Linked DNA regions of Homo sapiens. The protein of the gene in region 1 interacts with the protein of each later gene in a biochemical or structural test. Each region holds a gene or a part of one and is shown on either strand. Other genes may lie near its edges.

Evidence for each region. The genes of interacting proteins can lie anywhere in the genome.
Region 2: the proteins of TPP1 (region 1) and TERT form a complex in vitro, tested with the Homo sapiens proteins (2 studies listed by BioGRID and IntAct).

The regions. Positions count from the first base shown.
Region 1 is NC_000011.10:6,612,268-6,616,422, forward strand, and holds the end of TPP1 (tripeptidyl-peptidase 1 preproprotein), read right to left. Parts: coding exon 4,048-4,155; intron 3,808-4,047; coding exon 3,738-3,807; intron 3,296-3,737; coding exon 3,175-3,295; intron 3,063-3,174; coding exon 2,904-3,062; intron 2,725-2,903; coding exon 2,599-2,724; intron 2,420-2,598; coding exon 2,279-2,419; 3' UTR 501-2,278; downstream 1-500. UniProt on the Homo sapiens protein: Lysosomal serine protease with tripeptidyl-peptidase I activity. May act as a non-specific lysosomal peptidase which generates tripeptides from the breakdown products produced by lysosomal proteinases. Requires substrates with an unsubstituted N-terminus.
Region 2 is NC_000005.10:1,281,569-1,285,068, forward strand, and holds part of TERT (telomerase reverse transcriptase), read right to left. Parts: intron 1,057-3,500; coding exon 861-1,056; intron 1-860. UniProt on the Homo sapiens protein: Telomerase is a ribonucleoprotein enzyme essential for the replication of chromosome termini in most eukaryotes. Active in progenitor and cancer cells. Inactive, or very low activity, in normal somatic cells.

The sequences.
Region 1 (4,155 bases):
GCCCACGACTCGCCCCGCCTGTCTCTGTTAGTGCTCTCCAGCCCGCTCCCCGCCTCCTCCCATAGTGGATCTGCGGGTTAGAGGAAATAGGCTGCAGGGCGGAGACCGAGCCTTGGCGAACTGCGCTGCCGTAGCCATTCCGCCCTAGCCTCTGCCGTGCTCCGCGGCGATTCCGTCCAGACCGGAACCAGCGTGCGTCTGGCTCTCCTCCGCCGCTCTGGGACACCTCATTCTGTCTGACGCTCAAGACCTGGCTTCGACGTTTATGGCCCTATGTCCCTCGACTACGGGTTGCCTGCCTGTCTGCATCGTTTCAAGTTCCCTTATTCAGCCTTTTAAGGATTCATAGTGGATTTGGAAAGCCCCCTCTCTTCTCCGCCAGCTGCCCCGAGAGGTGGGGGCAGCAGTGGGGCGGCACACAGTGCTGCTGTAGGAGGAGGAGGAGTTTCAGCCTGAGTCAACAACATATGCAAAAATCACAACGAATGAGAGGCGTGAGGTTTTCGGTGTAGCAGACATTTAATTCTTATTTGCCAACTCCTGAGCTAGGACCTGGGAACACAAAGTTAAATAGGACACGATTCTAGTCCTCTAGGCACCAACGGTCTTGGAAAGGAAGGCAGACAAGTAAACTGGCCATTTCAATACTACGTGGTCGTTACAATGCTAGAGGTAGGCACAGGGGGCGCAGTGCAAGGGAGGAAGGGCGTTAACATCTGCCACCTACTTCCAGGTGCCAAGCACTGTTATCAACATTATTCCACTTTATTCCCTGGTGATTATGAAAGGCAGGTATTGATATTCACACTTAACAGACGAGGAAACAGCCTCAGGGAGATAAGCTTACTTGACCCAGTCTCTCTCCTAGTCCATATCAGAACCAAGATTCAAACAGGTTTTGTTTAGAAAATCTAGGATTTTTCAGCCATACCAAAATAAAGTAGCCTCAGGGAATCAAAACATTCACGAAAGAAGGTGACTTCTGAACTGAGTCTTGCAAGAATTCTGGAAATTAACCTGGCAGTTGTATCAGGGGTGGTAAGGGGACGGAACAGCTTGAGCAAGAGTGAGAGTTCCTTGGGGTTTGGGGAGGGAGGAGGAAAAATGATTTTTTACTTAAGAACAAATAGCAAGGAAGGTTTGTGAGCTATGATTGGGGGCTGGAGGGGAAAGCCTGAATTCTATCCAGTAATCCTTGAAGGGTTTTCATCCAAGTGGCCTGATGGGATTTGCATTTTACTCTGGAAGATGACTTGGGGATTGGCAGGAAGTAAGGACACTTTTTTTCAAGAGAATATAGCCCTAAACTAAGGTAGTAGCAGTGGGGATATAAGTGGATAAGTTCTAGATATACTTGGGAAATATAATTGGAAGGACTTGTGGACTGATAAAGATATATTTAAGATGTGCAGTCAGTAGGACTTGTTGATTGAGGACTTGTTGATTGAAGGTGGGGTGAAAAGATGACACAGGTTTCTGGCTTGGTTGGAAAAAGCATAGCATCATTTACCAAGAAGAAACGAGATGGAATTGTTTGGGGTTGGGAAGGTGGACGATGAAATGTTGAGTATCACGCATCTTACATTTGAGGTATCAATCATTATTGGATAGAAAGTCTTATTTAGTGAGATGGTAATGGTTGTAGATGTCAGTGATTTGTTCCAGGGGACAATGAGTAAACTGAGAAGAGCAAAAATCTACAAATGGAGCAATGAAGGTCAGCATTCCATGAAGAAGCAGAAATTGATGAGAGAGGAAGACAAGAGTAGTCAGAGAAGTTAAGACCTGGAAGCTAAGTAAGGAGAGGGAGTGGGCAACTATGATGGAAAGGCCATAAAGCAAAGATTGAGAAGTATGCACTGGAGGCCATTGTTTCTGGATGTCAGGGTAGGAAAGAGTAAACGGTGACAGTAGAGGTCTCCTTGCAGTGAATTGGGGAATGAATATCAAGTGAAATAGTGCACAGAGTCTGTATACAACCCTTTGGAAAAGCCTGATTGAAAAGAGAAAGATGAGATGCGGAGGGAGAGGCATTCAAAAAATGCTAGTTACAGCATCTTATTGAGGAATCTAAGGCAGGAGTAGGGAGACCTGAGTATGATGGAGCATGGTAGGGTTGGGAGTCAAGTCAAGCTCACAGCATTTCAGGGTTAGGGAGATAAGCTGTCTGCAGCAGTCAATAGTTGAGGGTTCAGCAGGGCTTCCAACAGGGCAGAATAAGGGACTGAACTGCCAGCTTCAGGGCAGGGGACAAGCCATCTCTCCTGATAGGAAAGGGTCAGGGGTTGAGTAGAGTCTTCAGCAAAGCTGGGAAGTTGGGTGTTCCCCAGCCTGTTACAGGATCCCAGCCAGGACCAGAGCAGAAACCCTGGCCCTCTACCTCTTCATCCAGACAGGACTCATGGCAGCCACGGGTTACCTAGGGAGGAGGCTGGCATCAGATCTGGGCCTACTAGTACCAGTACTTAAAGAGTATATCTCCTCACCCTGTACTCACATTTCAAAGGCTATTCCACACCACCCTAACTGCCCCCAAGTCCCCCTTAGCACTCCCCATAGTTGTTTGAAAACGTCCACACCCTTCCCTTCCATACTTACATCAAAGAGTCCTGCCCCATGCTGCTGGTAGAGCCTTGGGTTGAGAAAGCCAAGAGGGGGGCGGCCACTAAGGATCCTGTGCTCATTGATCAAGGATAGGATCCCCCCAAACACTGGAGTAGAGGCCTACAAGAGTGAAGGTGCAAGTAGAGGTCAGGGGTTCTGAGTGATTGGACTTTTTGGGAGTGATGCTTTAAAGTATCAGACATCTCTAAGGAGTCAGGGGTTCTAGGTGCAAGGTGTTCAAGGTGTTAGGGGGTAAGGGTAGTTCCTGAGTGAGAGTTTGGAGATGGGCTGATTCTCACCGAGGTTCCGGACACCCATGGAATGGGCACTCTGTTGCTGACCACCCAGTAGCCATCAGAAAGTGCAGCCACATCTGGGTAGGCACGGCCACTGGCATTGAAGTAACTGGATGGTGGCAGGTGGGGGCTAGAGCTCAGGAACTTCGTTACAGCTTCCTCCTGAAAGGCATTTTTGAGTGAGTATTGGCATGTGGCCTGCCCAGCAGTCAGCTGAACTGAGGATCCCCCATCCTCACTCTTACCCTGCATCCATCCACACAAACACACGTACCTGGTATGAAGGCCGTGGGAACACATTGCTGAAGCCACCACCACTGATATAGTCAACAATTTCATTTGTGATGAGGAAAGGTTCCTGGAAGGATGTGCCTCCCACTGTGGTGACATAGGGGCTGAGGGGAGAAGACAGCATTTGGATAGTAGGGGACCCAAGGGGACCTCCAAGATATGTGGGGAGGGGTGAGTATAGCCCAGGTCTTGCTGGAGGAACTAGACTCTGTGGGGAAGCATGTATATGGGATTGACTAAGAGATTTTGAGCCTTCAAGGCATGGCCCGAGGTGACTGTGCACACTTTTCTCTACAGAACACCCACCAAATCTTCCACTAAAATGCCTGGGAACTGACGAAAAGGAACAATGGGAGCTGTATCCCACACAAGAGATTTGGGGCCTGGGACCTGCAGGAAGAAGAGACAGGAGTACAGCAACCAGGGCAGGCAAAGCTTAAGGCTGAACCACAGGAGCACATGGTGGGGTCAAGACAAAGGTTCTACATCATGAGATCACAAGTGAAAGGTGGTGGTTATACCTGAGTGGTAGGCTAGAGTACTTACCTGGAGGCAGGGAAGGTAGGGCGGAACTGGTGTCTTCCAGAGACAGACCAACACCCGGCCCCACTGTCACCTGAGAGAGACCAAGTGTAGCATTCATATTAATTGGTTAGGGCTTAGTATGTGGGTTCGGATGTCAGAGGGGAAATTTGTTACTGTAGGAGGTCAGAGTGTAGAGGTCAGGTCAGTGGTCCCTACTGGAAGGTCTGAGTTCAGATTATGAGTCAGAGACCAGGCTCAGGGATCACTGTGGAGTCAAAGCTCCCAGGCTGCAGAGGTGTAAGCATTGTCTAAGTTTAGGGTAGGAGGTCACCTGAGGCGAAGAGCAGGGTGAGACCCCGAGCGGCAGCCTTCATGAGCTCAGTGTTGACCCGCTGGATGTAGGCGCTGCTGAGGGAGTCCTCATCATCTCCATAGCTCA
Region 2 (3,500 bases), on another chromosome or scaffold:
TTGAATCTGTCACAATCTCACACTCTCATCAGCCGAACATTGCAGACAAAATCTCACAGCCATTCAAATGCAGCCACCTAGAAGTTAGCTCATGGTGGAACTCTCCTATCCCCAGGTGCTCCCTGCACAGGTGCTCCCTGCAGTGAGTCGCCAAGTGGGTGGGATTTTATCCTCTCATGACCTAAATCCAATAGATTGAAGATTCATACAGAACAGCATGAATTAAAAGAGAATCGGGGGCTGGGCACGGTGGCTTAGCCTGTAAACCCAGCACTTTGGGAGGCCAAGGTGGGTGGATCACCTGAGGTCATGAGTTCGAGACCAGCCTGGCCAACATGGTGAAACCCCGTCTCTCCTAAAAGTACAAAAATTAGCCAGGCGTGGTGGCAGGTGCCTGTAATCCCAGCTACTTAGGAGGCTGAGGCTGGTGAATCGCTTAAACCCAGGAGGTGGAGGTTGCAGTGAGCCAAGATTATGCCACTGCACTCCAGCCTGGGCAACAGAGTGAGACTCCATCTCAAAAAAGAAAAAAAAAAGAGAGAGAGAATCAGACCCACATCCCAGGGAAAGGCAAGGAGGCTAGTGGTAGTGTTTCCATCTAATTTAAATCCCTTCTGCTTTACAAACCCTAGAGACCACTTGGCACAAACTCCTGATTTTACAAGTAAGAGAACGTGAGCTCCAGGCAGTCAGAGCCTTGCACAGAATCCACTTGGACCAGGCCTGTGACGGGGCCCCTGGCTCCCAGCCCAGAGCTGCACAGCCAGGGAAGCACAGGCAAGTGGAGACAGGCGCATGCTGAGGCCGGGCTGGTGTTCCAGGACTTCGAGAAGCAGAGGCCTGGCGTGGGGATACAGTACCTGATTCCAATGCTTTGCAACTTGCTCCAGACACTCTTCCGGTAGAAAAAGAGCCTGTTCTTTTGAAACGTGGTCTCCGTGACATAAAAGAAAGACCTGAGCAGCTCGACGACGTACACACTCATCAGCCAGTGCAGGAACTTGGCCAGGATCTCCTCACGCAGACGGTGCTCTGCGGCCGGAACACAGCCAACCCCTTAAACGAGAAGGACATGCCACATCCAGATCACCGAGGGCCTGGTGACCTCACCCCGGACCTGCACCATCCGGACACCGCACATCCAGCTCACCAAGGGCCTGGCGACCTCACCCCAGACCTGCACCATCCGGACACGGCACATCCAGCCCACCAAGGGCCTGGCGACCTCACCCTGGACCTGCACCATTCGGACACGGGGACACCGCATATCCAGCTCACCGAGGGCCTGGCGAACTCACCCCGGACCTGCAGCATCCAGACACCACACATCCAGCTCACCGCAGGGCCTGGCGAACTCACCCCGGACCTGCACCATCCAGACAACACACATACAGCCCACCGCAGGGCCTGGCGACCTCACTCCGGACCTGCACCATCCGTACACTGCACATCCAGCTCACCGCAGGGCCTGGCGACCTCACGCCAGACCTGCACCATCCGGATACAGCACATCCAGCTCACCGCAGGGCCTGGCGACCTCACCCCGGACCTGCACCATCCGGATACAGCACATCCAGCTCACAGCAGGGCCTGGCGACCTCACCCCAGACCTGCACCATCCGGACACCACACATCCAGCTAACCGCAGGGCCTGGTGACCTCACCCCGGACCTGCACCATCCGACACCGCATATCCAGCTAACCGCAGGGCCTGGCGACCTCACGCCAGACCTGCACCATCCGGATACAGCACATCCAGCTCACTGCAGGGCCTGGCGACCTCACCCCGGACCTGCACCATCTGGATACAGCACATCCAGCTCACAGCAGGGCCTGGCGACCTCACCCCGGACCTGCACCATCCAGACACCGCACATCCAGCTAACCGCAGGGCCTGGTGACCTCACCCCGGACCTGCACCATCCGGACACCGCATATCCAGCTAACCGCAGGGCCTGGCGACCTCACCCCGGACCTGCACCATCCGGACACCCCACATCCAGCTCACCGAAGGCCTTGGCTACCTCACCCCGGACCTGCACCATCCAGACACCGCACATCCAGCTCACAGCAGGGCCTGGCGACCTCACGCCGGACCTGCACCATCCGGACACCACACATCCAGCCCACCAAGGGCCTGGCGACCTCACCCCAGACATGCACCATGCAGACACCGCACATCCAGCTCACCAAAGGCCTGGCGACCTCACCCCAGACCTGCACCATCCGGACACGGCACATCCAGCCCACCAAGGGCCTAGCGACCTCACCCTGGACCTGCACCATCCGGACACGGGGACACCGCACATCCAGCTCACCGAGGGCCTGGCGAACTCACCCCGGACCTGCAGCAACCGGACACTGCACAACCAGCTCACCGCAGGGCCTGGTGACCTCACCCCAGACCTGCACCATCCGGATACAGCACATCCAGCTCACAGCAGGGCCTGGCGACCTCACCCCGGACCTGCACCATCCGGATACAGCACATCCAGCTCACAGCAGGGCCTGGCAACCTCACCCCGGACCTGCATCATCCGGACTCCATACCTCCAGCTCACCGAGGGCCTGGCGACCACACCCCAGACCTGCACCATCCAGACGCCGCACATCCAGCTCACAGCAGGGCCTGGCGACCTCACCCCGGACCTGCATCATCCGGACTCCATACCTCCAGCTCACCGAGGGCCTGGCGACCACACCCCAGACCTGCACCATCCAGACGCCGCACATCCAGCTCACAGCAGGGCCTGGCGACCTCACCCCGGACCTGCATCATCCGGACTCCATACCTCCAGCTCACCGAGGGCCTGGAGACCTCACCCCTGACCTGCACCATCCGGACACCGCATATCCAGCTCACAGCAGGGTCTGGCGACCTCACCCCGGACCGGCACCATCCGGACTCCATACATCCAGCTCACCGAGGGCCTGGCGACCTCACTCCAGACCTGCACCATCCAGACACCGCACATCCAGCTCACCGCAGGGTCTGGCGACCTCACCCCGGACCTGCACCATCTGGACACTGCACATCCAGCTCACCGAGGGCCTGGCGACCTCACTCCAGACCTGCACCATCCAGACACCACACATCCAGCTCACAGCAGGGCCTGGCGACCTCACCCCAGACCTGCACCATCCAGACACCACACATCCAGCTCACAGCAGGGCCTGGTGACCTCACACCGGACCTGCAGCATCCGGACACCCCACATCCAACTCACAGCAGGGCCTGGCAACCTCACCCCAGACCTGCACCATCCGGACACCGCATATCCAGCTCACCGCACGGTCTGGCACCGTCTGGCGACCTCACTCCAGACCTGCACCATCCAGACACCGCACACCCAGCTCACCGCAGGGCCTGGTGACCTCACCCCAGACCTGCACCATCCAGACACCACACATCCAGCTCACAGCAGGGCCTGGCGACCTCACCCCGGACCTGCATCATCCGGACTCCATACCTCCAGCTCACCGAGGGCCTGGAGACCTCA